Homo sapiens: one gene and its partner. The protein of the gene in region 2 interacts with the protein of the main gene of each other region in a pairwise test. Each region holds a gene or a part of one and is shown on either strand. Other genes may lie near its edges. The genes, in order: CSTPP1 and RAB29.

The links.
Region 1: the proteins of RAB29 (region 2) and CSTPP1 interact in a two-hybrid assay, tested with the Homo sapiens proteins (2 studies listed by BioGRID and IntAct).

What each region holds. Positions count from the first base shown.
Region 1 is NC_000011.10:46,939,513-46,946,804, reverse strand, and holds part of CSTPP1 (centriolar satellite-associated tubulin polyglutamylase complex regulator 1), read right to left. Parts: intron 1-7,292. UniProt on the Homo sapiens protein: Regulator of the tubulin polyglutamylase complex (TPGC) that controls cytoskeletal organization, nuclear shape, and cilium disassembly by balancing microtubule and actin assembly.
Region 2 is NC_000001.11:205,767,238-205,772,526, forward strand, and holds the end of RAB29 (ras-related protein Rab-7L1), read right to left. Parts: coding exon 5,259-5,289; intron 4,417-5,258; coding exon 4,235-4,416; intron 3,618-4,234; coding exon 3,496-3,617; intron 3,217-3,495; coding exon 3,105-3,216; 3' UTR 749-3,104; downstream 1-748. UniProt on the Homo sapiens protein: The small GTPases Rab are key regulators in vesicle trafficking. Essential for maintaining the integrity of the endosome-trans-Golgi network structure.

The DNA of each region.
Region 1 (7,292 bases), on a different chromosome or scaffold from region 2:
ACAGACAATAACCAAGTATACAAGTAGGTACACAAGATAACTCTGATAAGTGCTATGAAGGACATAAATAGGATGATGAACCAGAAATAGGATAATGGATCATGTCTCTTCTGCTCTACTATTATTTTTATTTATTTACTTATTTTTGAGATGGAGTCTCGCTCTGTCGCCCAGGCTGGAGTGCCGTGGTGCAATCTCGGCTCACTGCAAGCTCCGCCTCCCGGGTTCACACCATTCTCCTGCCTCAGCCTCGCGAGTAGCTGGGACTACAGGCGCCTGCCACCACGCCCGGCTAATTTTTTGTATTTTTAGTAGAGACAGGGTTTCACCGTGTTAGCCAGGATGGTCTCGATCTCCTGACCTCGTGATCCACCCGCCTTGGCCTCCCAAAGTGCTGGGATTACAGGCGTTGAGCCACTGCTCCCGGCCTGCTCTACTATTATTTTTAAAACTTCAATTTATCTACTCGGCCTCCTAGAATTATTCATTTAGCACATATTGCATTTGTGCAAATAAAAGTGATCCCCAACTTCTGAATAGCATTTGGAATAAAGATTTTAACATTACTTGAATATATAAATGATAAACAAAGTCAAAAATTTTAAAGCTATCTTAAAACCCCAGAATAACACTGACATCACTCTGCAATTTACTTTGGAGAAATGGAGGTAGGCAAGGGTTGGGAACAACATGGCTTAGAACTTACTGGCTCTTTTTTCCCCCCAACAAAAAGATATTTATTTATTACATGTATTAAATAGGTTACAGAATCTTTGGAAAAGGAAAAAAATCTAGATCGACCTTCCAGGAACAACTCCCAAAAGGCCCATTCCAGAACTAGGCTACCAAGGGAACTGCTGTCCCTTCCATGACTGAGAAGCTGCTGACCAAACTGAGAAAAGGCCAAGATAGCTGCTGGCTCTAGAACCATATAGGTCACATACTCTTTACTTATTATACTGTCTTTTTATGTTATGGTCATTTATGAATATGTCCCATCTCCCATCTACTGTGTAAGTTTCCTGTGGGGAGGGATGCTTTATATTCATATATTCATGCCTGGCTTTATATAGAGAAGGTATTCAGGGAGGAAGAAAAGGAAGGAGAAGGGTAGGGGGAGGAAAAGGAAAGAAAGAGGTGACTTTGTGAACATGTTCATAATTATTTTATTTATTTATTATTATTATTTTGAGACAGAGTCTTGCTCTGTCGCCCAGGCTGGAGTGCACTGGCGTGATCTCAGTGGACTGCAACCTCTGCCTCCCGGGTTCAAGCGATTCTCATGCCTCAGCCTCCCAAGTAGCTGGGACTCCAGGTGCGCACCACCATGCCCAGCTATTTTTCATATTTTTAGTAGAGACAGGGTTTCACCATGTTGGCCAAGCTGGTCTCGAACTCCTGACCTCAAGTGATCTGCCCGCCTCAGCCTTCCAAAATGCTGGGATTACAGGCATGAGCCACCGCACCTGGCCCATAATCATTTCAAAGTGACCAGTTTTATGTATTATAAACCTAGTTTCCAAAGATTTAGGAAGTCAGTTTAACACCTATTTTATTTCATTTCCTTTCTGCAGCAACCAAACACTTTAAGGCCCTAAGAGAATTTCTGCTAACTTACTGTAAACAGCAATATTTCCTAGAATAGAATTGGGTTTGGAAGGCTCACTAGTTATATTCAAATAAAAATAAGTTTATCAGGATTCATTCAAAATCAAAAAATAGAATGTGTCTGGAAGTCAGACAAGTAACTATCATATGCTGTGGTATCAGCAAATACAAAAAAAATTAAGATTAGTAACACTTATCTTCCACATAGAAGGGGTCCTATGTCAGAACCTTTGCCAAGTCCTAAAGAAGTTGTATTAACCTCATGGCTGGAAGAGACTATATCAGTAACTGTTAGATGTTGTCTTAGCTCAGATACTGTGAGAAACAGACACCAAAACAGGATCAGACATGCGAGAGATGTACTGGGGGAAACGCCCATGATAGAAAATGGGAAGGAAGCCGGAGGAGTCTGGGAGAGCTAAGAGATCAAATGCAGGTGTGACCCTAATTTATTATCCCTCCTTTAGGAGGGACCCTAATTATTATCCCTCCTTTAGGAGGGAGAAGGGAGAATGAGGGACTTAGCAGTGTGCAGTGAGAGTCTTTAAGCCAAAGTCACCCACTAGAGGAGTAAAACATCTCATGGAAGTGGGTCTGTCCTGCCCAGTCATTGACTAGGAGCAGTCTGTGGAAAGTGTGACCTCAGTGTGAACAAGGTGTTAGATTCAGAGCTGGGGTCAGGAGTCAATTACCCTCCCCTCCCCAGTGTAGGAGATCTGAGAGGCACACATTCCTGGTTGCCACCAGATGTTTACGTATTTGCACAAAAATATGGTAATAACACTAGCAGCTAATATTTATTGAGCACCTACACAGGTGCTCTAACAGGATAAATGCTTACATGTATGAGGCAAGCACAATTTTTTTTTTTTTTTTTTTGAGAAGCAGTCTCACTCTGTCACCCAGGCTGGAGTGCAGTGGTGAGATTTCAGCTCACTGCAGCCTCCTCCTCCCGGGTTCAAGCAATTCTCGTGTCTCAACCTCCTGAGTAGCTGGGACTATAGGAACACACCCCCACGCTCTGCTAATTTTTGCATTTTTAGTAGAGATGGGGTTTCACCATTTTGGCCAGGCTGGTCTCGAACTCCTGACCTCAGGTGATCCACCCGCCTCGGCCTCCCAAAATGCTGGGATTATAGGCATGAGCCACCATGCCTGGCCTTTTTTAAATTTTTTGAGAAAGGGTCTCACTTTGTCACCCAGGCTGGAGTGCAGTGGTGTGAAAACAGCTCACTGCAGCCTTGACCTCCTGGGCTCAAGCCATCCTCCCACCTCCGCCTCCTGAGTAACTGGGACTACAGATGCATGCTGTTGCACCCAGCTATTTTTTTTTTATTTTTAGTAGAGACGAAGTCTCACTATGTCCCATTGGTCTCAAACTCCTGGGCTCAAGCAATCCTCCCTCCTTGGCCTCCCACAGTGCTGGGAATATAGGCGTAAGCCACCATGACTGTACTATTACCACCCACATTTTGGAGATGTGGAAACTAAGGCACAGAGAGGTTAAGTGATTTCTTCTAGGTCATACAGCTACCCAAAGTACAAAGATGATTGTCAATAAAATTCTCCCAAATGGTAGAAGTTATCTTCCTCACTGCCTGCCTCTGAGAGATGAGTCCAGTGGCAAGAAGAAATTGGAAATTTTACCATTCCCTGATCCATCCTCATTCCTCGGATGCCTCCTCATGGCAGAAATGTTAAATGAAGACACTGGAATCACTTGACCTTACTCCAGGATCCACGTATAGGTCTACACAATAGTTGGAGCCCCACTTTGGGAGTTGCTCAAAGTATTTATAGCATAGAGTTTAACCATGTGGACTTCAATTAGACTGCTGGGTTAGAATTCTGGATCCACCACTTACAACTTGTTATTTGGTATCTTTGTGTGTAGTTTCCTCATCTGCCGAATGGAGATAACAACTGAAACTATCTTCATATACATCAATATATGTAAAGCATTTAAAATGGTACCTGGTACAGAGTAAGTTCTTAATAAGTCTCGGTTGCTTTTGTTAGCTACTCATGTTTAGGGTACCCTAAGGTCAGATTATTCATATTCCATTTCACATATACGTATGAATTAAGTGTAGGAGAGTATACAATGATAGAAGGTATACAGTGATAGAAGGTAGACAATGATAGAAGGTTGACAATGATGAGTAAAACACAATTCTTGTTCCCAAGAAATTTATTTGCAAGAGCCTCATCCTTAATAAGGAAGCAAGAATTACTGCCCTTTGAACCAATAGGGGTTTTTTGGTTTGTTTTTATCTTTTTAGTGAAGAGGAAAAAACACAAGCTGTGGAATATGACAAACCTGGGTATGAACCCCTGTTTACTATGCATCATTGCCTGTGTGACCTTGTGCAAATCAATTAGCCTTTCTAAGCCTCAGCTTCCTTATTTATAAAATGAGAAGATGATATTAATAACTACTAATTGGGACCAGTAAGAGTACCCACTTCATATGGTAGTTGTGAAAATTAAATGAGATAAACCACAGTGCCAGGCATATAGGAAGAGTTCAAAAACTATAGCTTAAAAAAAAAACTACCCAATTTATTGTGATTCTTCTAAATGTCTAGTCCCCAAAGGAGAAAGGCCATCTTTGATTTCTAGAGTTATCTATTATACTAACCCACTATCAACCGTAGTGAGAATAAGCAGGTTCCATGGAAAAGAAGAGGCAACTTGGAGCGTGAGTGAAAGCATGCACCTCACCAAATTAGGTGGAGTAAAAAATAAACCTCACGCCCTCATGCTTATACTCAGGTCAGCACGTAGGTGGTATGTTTGGCAAACCTGGGACCAGAACAGGCTGCCCTTTGGCTCTAGAGAGCTCGCCACACCCAACCAGATACACAGACACACCTTCAGCCTCTGGCAGAAGCTTCCACTAAGTAGGTTTCATAAGGCTGGAAACCTTTTGCGGGTCCTACAGAGAGGGTCTATACTTATTTCATCTCCTTACCAGACTCTCCTTTCTCTCTTCAGGCCTAGGCATTAACACAATTTTTATCACTACATTCTGATGACTGCAGACATGAACATCACTAAGCTATTCTTTAGTGATGATCTTAAGATCTTAAGCCATGCAAGGCCATGATTACAGGTTCCTAATCTACAAAGTCAGTGGGGAAAGGATCAGTTTACCCAACATGATAAAAGATTGATTTCTTCACTAATAGTCAGAAAGGTAAATACAATCCCTAGCTAGCAGGGAGAAAGGGATATCTCTAGATATTCTTTGGATAGGTATCCCTGTAATTTACACCATAATCCTAAAGAGAGGTCTCCAGATACACTAACCAAGGGGAACTCAACTTTAGCTTTTGGGTTTCACTGAATGCCTAGGGCTTTCCAGTCTGCAGTTTTGTTTTCTCTATAAGTATAGTCTTCTTTAGGCTTACACATACAAGTAACTTTATAATGTATAAAAATAAAAACAAATGGAAAAATCACAGGTATTTAAAAATTTAAATCAGGAAATATTTTATTAATCTATTCTGTAGGGAGTGGTTTTAAACGGTCATTAGATTGAGGGTGAATAGGTTGGCCAGGCGTGGTGGCTCACACCTGTAATCCCAGCACTTTGGGAGGCTAAGGTGGGTGGATCACCTGAGGTCAGGAGTTCGAGACCAGCCTGGCAAACATGGTGAAACTCTGTCTCTACTAAAAATACAAAAATTAGCTGGGCATGGTGGCAGGTGCCTGTAATCCCAGCTACTTGGGAGGCTGAGACACGAGAATCACTTGAACCCTGGAGGCGGAGGTTGGAGTGAGCCAAGATCACATCATTGCACTCCAGCCTGGGTGACAGAGCGAGACTCCGTCTCAAGAAAAAAGAAAAAAAAAATTGAGGGTGAATAGGTCAAAGCAGCATGCCTCTAAGAGAGACAAATTGTAAAAGGCAGGGATAGTTCTCAACTAAAGACAAACGCATTTCAGCAGAGTGATACGGTTTGATGAACCAGGAGAAGGCAGTGAGGGGTGTGACCATGCTGAGGGCAGTATGAATGTCTAGTTAGTGGTTAGGACAAGGAATTAAGACACTTAAATATGCAACAAAGCATGAAGAAGCATTTGTATAGGATTCAATTATTAGGTGATTGGTTGGGCTTCACAAACATTGAAGCTTTTTCAACCAACCTGAGACTCTGATTCTGTTTGTAGATTCATTCTCAACACTGCCACTGAATTGGCCTTCCTGAAAACGCCATTTATGAAGAGACCACCAACTTCTATTCACCAAGGCACCAATACACCAAATCTGCCAAGCCTTTGAGACATAAAATTCAAACAGCAAACACCCAAGGAACTGAACAATGAACTAGCCTTTTCAAATATTTCATATATTCATTGAGTACTGGGTAATAAAATACATAAAATCTTTGGAAAAAAGTCTAGGCATTGCTTGACATTGATACTGTTATTCATTAGATACAAAATTGTCTGTGATATCCCCTTTTAGCTGATTAATGGATGTGGTCACTGTCTTAAGCTCTCTCTCTATATATATGTCTATATATATGTTCATGTATATATGTGTATATATATAGCTTTCAAAGACCAATCAGCCCTTAAACTTGGTAAAAAGGCACTCAACTTCATTTAAAAATGCATATTAAATCTACTCAGACTATCTGTCACTTAGATTGAAAAAAATCCAAGTTTGATGTATTTTGTTGTCAGCACAATGGGGAAACAGGCATTCTCTTTCATTGCTGGTGGCAAAATGGTACAACACCTATTAAGGGCAATCTGACAATATCTATAAGTACTTCAATGCATATGCCCTTAATCCACCAATTCCACTTTGTGGAACTTATTCTTGCAGATACACTTGCAAAGGAACAAAACTGCAGGTTATTCATTGCAGCATTCTTAGTAACAGCAAAAGGCTAAAAACAACTTGTTTACCAGTGCGGGACTGGTTAAATAAATTATTTAAATACTATATAGCTAAAAATGAATTTCATGAAGAACGAAGAAGCTCCCTACTGACTGAGAAATTACTTCGAGGCCAGGCGCAGTGGCTCACGCCTATAATCCCAGGACTTTGGGAAGCCAAGGTGGGCAGATCGCTTGAGCTCAGGAAGTTCAAAAGCAGCCTGGGCAACATGGAGAAACCCTATCTCTACCCAAAATACAAAAACTTAGCCAGGTGTGGTGGCTCGTGCCTGCAGTTCCAGCTACTTGAGAGGCTGGGGCAGGAGAATGGCTTGAACCCAGGAAGTGGAGGTTGCAGTGAGCCGAGATGGTGCCACTGCACTCCAGCCTGGGTGACAGAGTGAGACTCTGTCTCAAGAAAGAAAGAAAAGAAAAAACAAAAGAAACGGAAATTACTTCAAGATGTATTAAATGAAAAAGTATGCACTGTATACTCCTTTATGTATATAATAAACTCTGGAAAGATACACAGGAAAACAATAATAGTGGTTACTTTTGGGAGGCTGAGGATGGATGGAAACTGGGCAGATGGAGGCAAAGGGGTAGGCTTTTCACTAAAAACATCTACCTATCTATCTATCTATCTATCTATCTATCTATCTATCTATCTATGCATTTTAGAGGCAGGGTCTCACTCTATCATCCAGTCTGGTCTTGAACTCCTGACCTCAAGCAATCCTCCTACGTCAGCCTCCCAAAGTATTGGGATTACAGGCATGAGCCACCATGCC
Region 2 (5,289 bases):
TATTTTTAGTAGCATCGCATTTCCATTCATGTAAATATTTTATTTTTCCTAATCATAATTGCTTTTCTCTTATGGATAGGGGCACGAAGAGGAATTAGGTATATTTCAGTTCCTTCTTTAATTAGTTTCAGGCCTATAATGTTCACCAGTTGGGAGAGAATATCCAGAAGGGCTGGCTGGCTGGCCAGCCTCTAACAATGCTTGAAAAGGCAGGTAAATCCTGAGTCAGCAAATGGGAAAAGCAAGCACATTCAGTTTTTCAAAAAGGTCACGTTTCCAAGTAGTATTTGGCATGTTCCATCAAGTACTGAATTGGTACTAGGCAGATGGATCTAAGCAATTGGTATTAGTAAGTTAACAGGTAAACAGAATAATATTTACCTTCATTTTAAAAGAAGGTATTTAACCACATTTCTCACTTGTAAGTGGGAGGTAAACATTGGGCACACACATAAAGATGGGAACAACAGACACTGGAGACTCCCAAAAGTGGGGAGAGAGGGAGTAAGCGTTGAAAAAGTGCCGACTGGGTGCTATGTTCACTACTTGGGAGACAGGCTAAGCAGAAACCCAAGCTTTAGCATCACACAATATATCCATGTAACAAACTTGCACACGTACCCCTTGAATTGAAAATTTAGAAAAAGGTATTTAAAAAATAAAGTCTCCATTTCCGCAATCCTCTTGAGCTATCAGTATAAAACAGCACTTTGACAAACTCACATTAAAGGCCAATAACCACCATGAATACAAGACTTAGTTCTCATTTATTTGTGATTTTGCAGGTGTTCAAACCAATGAATGAAAATCAATTATCTCTTCATATCAATGAAATTCACTATTTCACTATTATCTTCAGAATCATAGTGATCAAAACCCTACCTGAAAATGGTAATACAAAAGAGAACTATTAATACAAGGTTTCAGAAGACTGTGCAAGTTAAAATAATTGGCATTAAAACGACACACAACAAACCACCGAAGGTTTGGTCCCTTTTCTCTCTGATATGTGGCCTCTGATCTCTTTCTTAGGGCAGTGGTTTTCAACGTCTGTGTAGCAGAATCACCTGAAAAGCTAACAGAATATATAGAAACCCAGGATTTGTATTTGTATTTAAATGTAAATACAAAAGGTCTGGGTCTCTGTATCTTTACAAAGTTCTCCAGCAATGGTTTCCAAACCAGGCTTATCACAATCACCAGGGAAGCTCTGAAAACAACAACACATTCCTAGGCTTCATCCCTAGAAATTCTGATTCAGTAGGTTTGAGGTCGGGACCCAAAAATCTTTTTCTTTTTGTTTTTTTTTTTTGGAGATGGAGTTTCACTCTTGTTGCCCAGGCTGAAGCGCAATGGTGTGATCTCAGCTCACTGCAACCTCTAACTCCCAGGTTCAAGCGATTCTCCTGCCTCAGTCTCCCAAGTAGCTGGGATTACAGGTGCCCGCCACCACGCCCAGCTAATTTTTCTTATTTTTAGTAGAGACGGGGTTTCAGTATGTTGGCCAGGTTGATCTTGAACTCCTGACCTCAGGCGATCCACCTGCCTCAGCCTCCCAAAGTGCTGGGATTACAGGTGTGAGCCACCACGGCTGGCTCAGGACCCAAAAATCTTAAAACATTTTTAAAAAATTTTAACAAACTTCCCAGGTATTCCCGACCAGCCAGATTTGGGAACCACTGACTTAGGACACTTATTTAAGGTCTATCACAGAACTTCAGGCCTCAGAGTTTAGTAAGAATATCGATAACTTTGGGTAGGTTATAAATCACCATCCTAGAGATAATTTAACAAATTAAATGGTCTAGTAGTGATTTGATACTAAAAAGCCCTGCCCAATTTAGTACTTAAATTACCTAATGATTTTCTGTCTATCTACTTTCCTCCCCCAGGCTAGGACCTGCACATAATATGTTTCCTATGACTAAGTGCCTACGTGTTCACAAAGTTGCCCCAGTGGAGGTTGTTAACTTCTCTCTTTTCTTCTTCCATTCAGATTCCCAAAGCTGTGAGGAGCAGACCTATTTCGAAGCATCACAGCCAGCTGATGTCACTTGCAGTATTATGCATTAAGACATCAACCCAGAAACCTGCAAATGGGAGACACTAGGCAATCCTATCATGAGGATTAAGCTCTTTGTGGAAGAAAATGCTTTCATTGCATGAGATAGGTAGTTTAAAAATGACTATTCTTTTTTCTTTTTTTTTTGAGACGGAGTCCTTCTCTGTCACCCAGGCTGAAGTGCGGTGGCATGATCTCGGTTCACTGCAACCTCTGCCTCCCAGTCTCAAGCGATTCTCCCACCTCAGTCTCCAGAGTAGCTGGGATTACAGACACGTGCCATCACGCCTGGCTAATTTTTGTACTTTTAGTAGAGACGGGGTTTTGCCATGCTGACCAGGTTGGTCTCGAATTCCTGGCCTCATGTGATCCGCCTGCCTTGGCCTCCCCAAGTGCTGGGATTACAGGCATGAGCCACCATGCCCGGCCAAAAAACTTGACTATTCTTGATGCCAAGACAAGAGAAACTTAATTATGACGTTAGAAGTTTCAAAAATACAGTGACTTCTGGGACACTTCTAGTAGCCAAAAATCCACAGATGCCCAGACCCCCTCCTTCTGCATTCCAGAATCAGATGTTTACATTCCAAGACAGAAAGAATCTGAAACAACGGCCTACAAGAAATTTGGGAAATGACATTTGATCTCATTTTCCTCTCAATTGGAAGTCATGATATCAATGAATATCAAATGGAAAAATAAGCTCAGAAGTAGGTGAGAATTATGATCTCTAAAACGCAGGTGCTGATTTCTAATCCTTCTCATAAAATTCCGGATCACAAATTGAGGGCTGATGAGAAGATCTTACACCGAAGGCACTAACTGGCACTAATGTGAGCCAGCAACATGTGAAAGGCTAATCCAGGAGATGCAGAAATGCACATGGGTTCCAGGTGTCTTTTCTAAGTGACAATGGGCCTCCTTACTGGACAGTAGTCAGGAGACAATTCAAATGTACTTAATAAAATTGTCAGGTGGGCAACCAAAGGGAAGAGACTTAAAAGACCTCCCAGAACTGGGATGGAAAATAAGCCAAACACTACTAGCAGCAGGACCAGCTGGAGGACTTGGTTTGTAGATTGATGTAGTCCCCTTGGGTGGACAAAGACATGATATCTTCTGTGGAATTTCTCATCATCTTTTCAATGAGGACTCTAAAAGACAAAAAATAAGCCTGAGAAGCTTATTTTGGAGGAAAAGCAGAAATGGCAGATGTAGTCTGACTTATCATCAGAGAGTATTTGGTAAAGCCAGAAGGTTTAAATGCCCCTTTGTCCCCAGTTATCTCAGGAAAGACAGTATCCCTGACCTTTAGGGGCTAGCATTCCAATGGCTCAGTCTGTCATTGTTGGCTCAGAAATAAGAAAAGAGGGTCCACAGGGCCACAGTGGAAGATGGATACATCTGCATGCCTATCAGCATGAGCTACTTACCTCATAGCCTCATTAATATTTTTGTTCTCCTTGACTGATGTTTCTGTCCAACCTGTGAAACCGTTCTCTTTACTGAACCGGTCAATCTGGTCCCGGCTCACTGCCCAAGGGGACAGATCACACTAGCAAAGAGAAAAAATAAAAGGCAGTATCATAAACTTCCTGCAACTAAGAAAGAATATGGCTCAGATACTGTGGATTTTAAACATATTTCCACCAATGGATAAGAACACCAGCATCGGAAATCTATAATCAACATTCTTCCCAAAGAAAGTCTCACCCTTGGCTGGGCGCAGTGGCTCACGCCTGTAATCCCAGCACTTTGGGAGGCTGAGGCGGGCAGATCATGAGGTCAGGAGAGCGAGACCATCCTGGCTAACACAATGAAACCCAGTCTCTACTAAAAATACAAAAAAATTAGCTGGGTGTGGTGGTGGGCACCTGTAGTCCCAGCTACTCGGGAGGCTGAGGCAAGAGAATGGCGTGAACCTGGGAGGCAGAGCTGGCAGTGAGCCGAGATCGCGCCACTGCACTCCAGCCTGAGCAACAGAGCGAGACTCCGTCTCAAAAAAAAAAAAAAGAAAGAAAGTCTCACTCACCCTCAACATCCTTTGAAGGAGGTAGAGATGATTTTGCCAACTTAAGAAGGGGAAATGGATGCCCAGAATCAGAGAGCATTTTACTTCCTTTCTAACCACAGATAGAGGCTAGGGACCATTTTCTGAGATTGGCCACATACCTTGTTGGCCAAGAGCAGGCAGGGCACCGGCTCTCCATTGGGTAGTGTGAGCTTGCTGTCTAGGTCCTGTTTCCACCTCTGGCTGTTGCTGAAGGTAGTGGCATTGGTAACGTCAAACATAATAACACAGGCAGAGGCATCCCGATAATACAATCGTGTCATAGAGGTGAAGCGCTCCTGCCCTGGGGAGAAAGGGGAGAGTTCTCAAGGTGACCCAAGAGCCGGCCTCTCCCCATTCCTTGTAGAAGAGGGCAGTAAGCATATGTGTCAGATGGGGCCACTCACTTTCCCCCTCTGACTCTTGGTTTTCTATCCCATAAAGGGATAATGAAGCCCAATTATTTCCAAGGCAGATTCCGCACCCAGATTGCTCCAGTCCAAATCCCTGCTCTGCTGCATACTATTTGACTTCGGGCAAATCAAGCTCTCAGTGCTTCAGATTTCTCATTTGTAAAGTGAAGATAAAAGCAGTCGCTTTTTTTTTTTTTTTTTGAAACAGTTTCCTGCACTCCTGTTGCCCAGGCTGGAGTGCAGTGGTGCCATCTAGGCTCACTGCAACCTCCACCTCCCAGGTTCAAGCAATTCTCCAAAAGCAGTAGCTTTTATGATAGGGTTGATGTGAGGATTAATGAGTCAGTGAATTTAAAATACTTAGAAGAATGCTTGGCACATAGTAAGGATTCACTATTTTTACTGTATCTATTTTCTGGGGATCTTGTTTTTCACCAAGGTCAGCCTTAAACCTAGAAAAAGCACCCTCCCCTGCTGTGGGAGTGTCCACCTATAGTCTGGACAATCCACCACCTTGCCAGCCCCTCCATCCACATAGAGACTGCTCCAGATCTATTCAGGGCAAAACATCTACAAAAGCTCTGCACCTATTCAGCTCATGTGTCCTCAGAGCAGCTCAATCATTCCAGCTTCAGAAAAACAATTTCTGGCTTTGCTGCCCCATTTTTTCCTCAGAGCTTTCTAGTTAAATCAAAATTTCTTCCCTTGTTCCTATCTAGCCCTCCCACTTTACCTGCAATATCCCACAGCTGAAGCCGCACTAT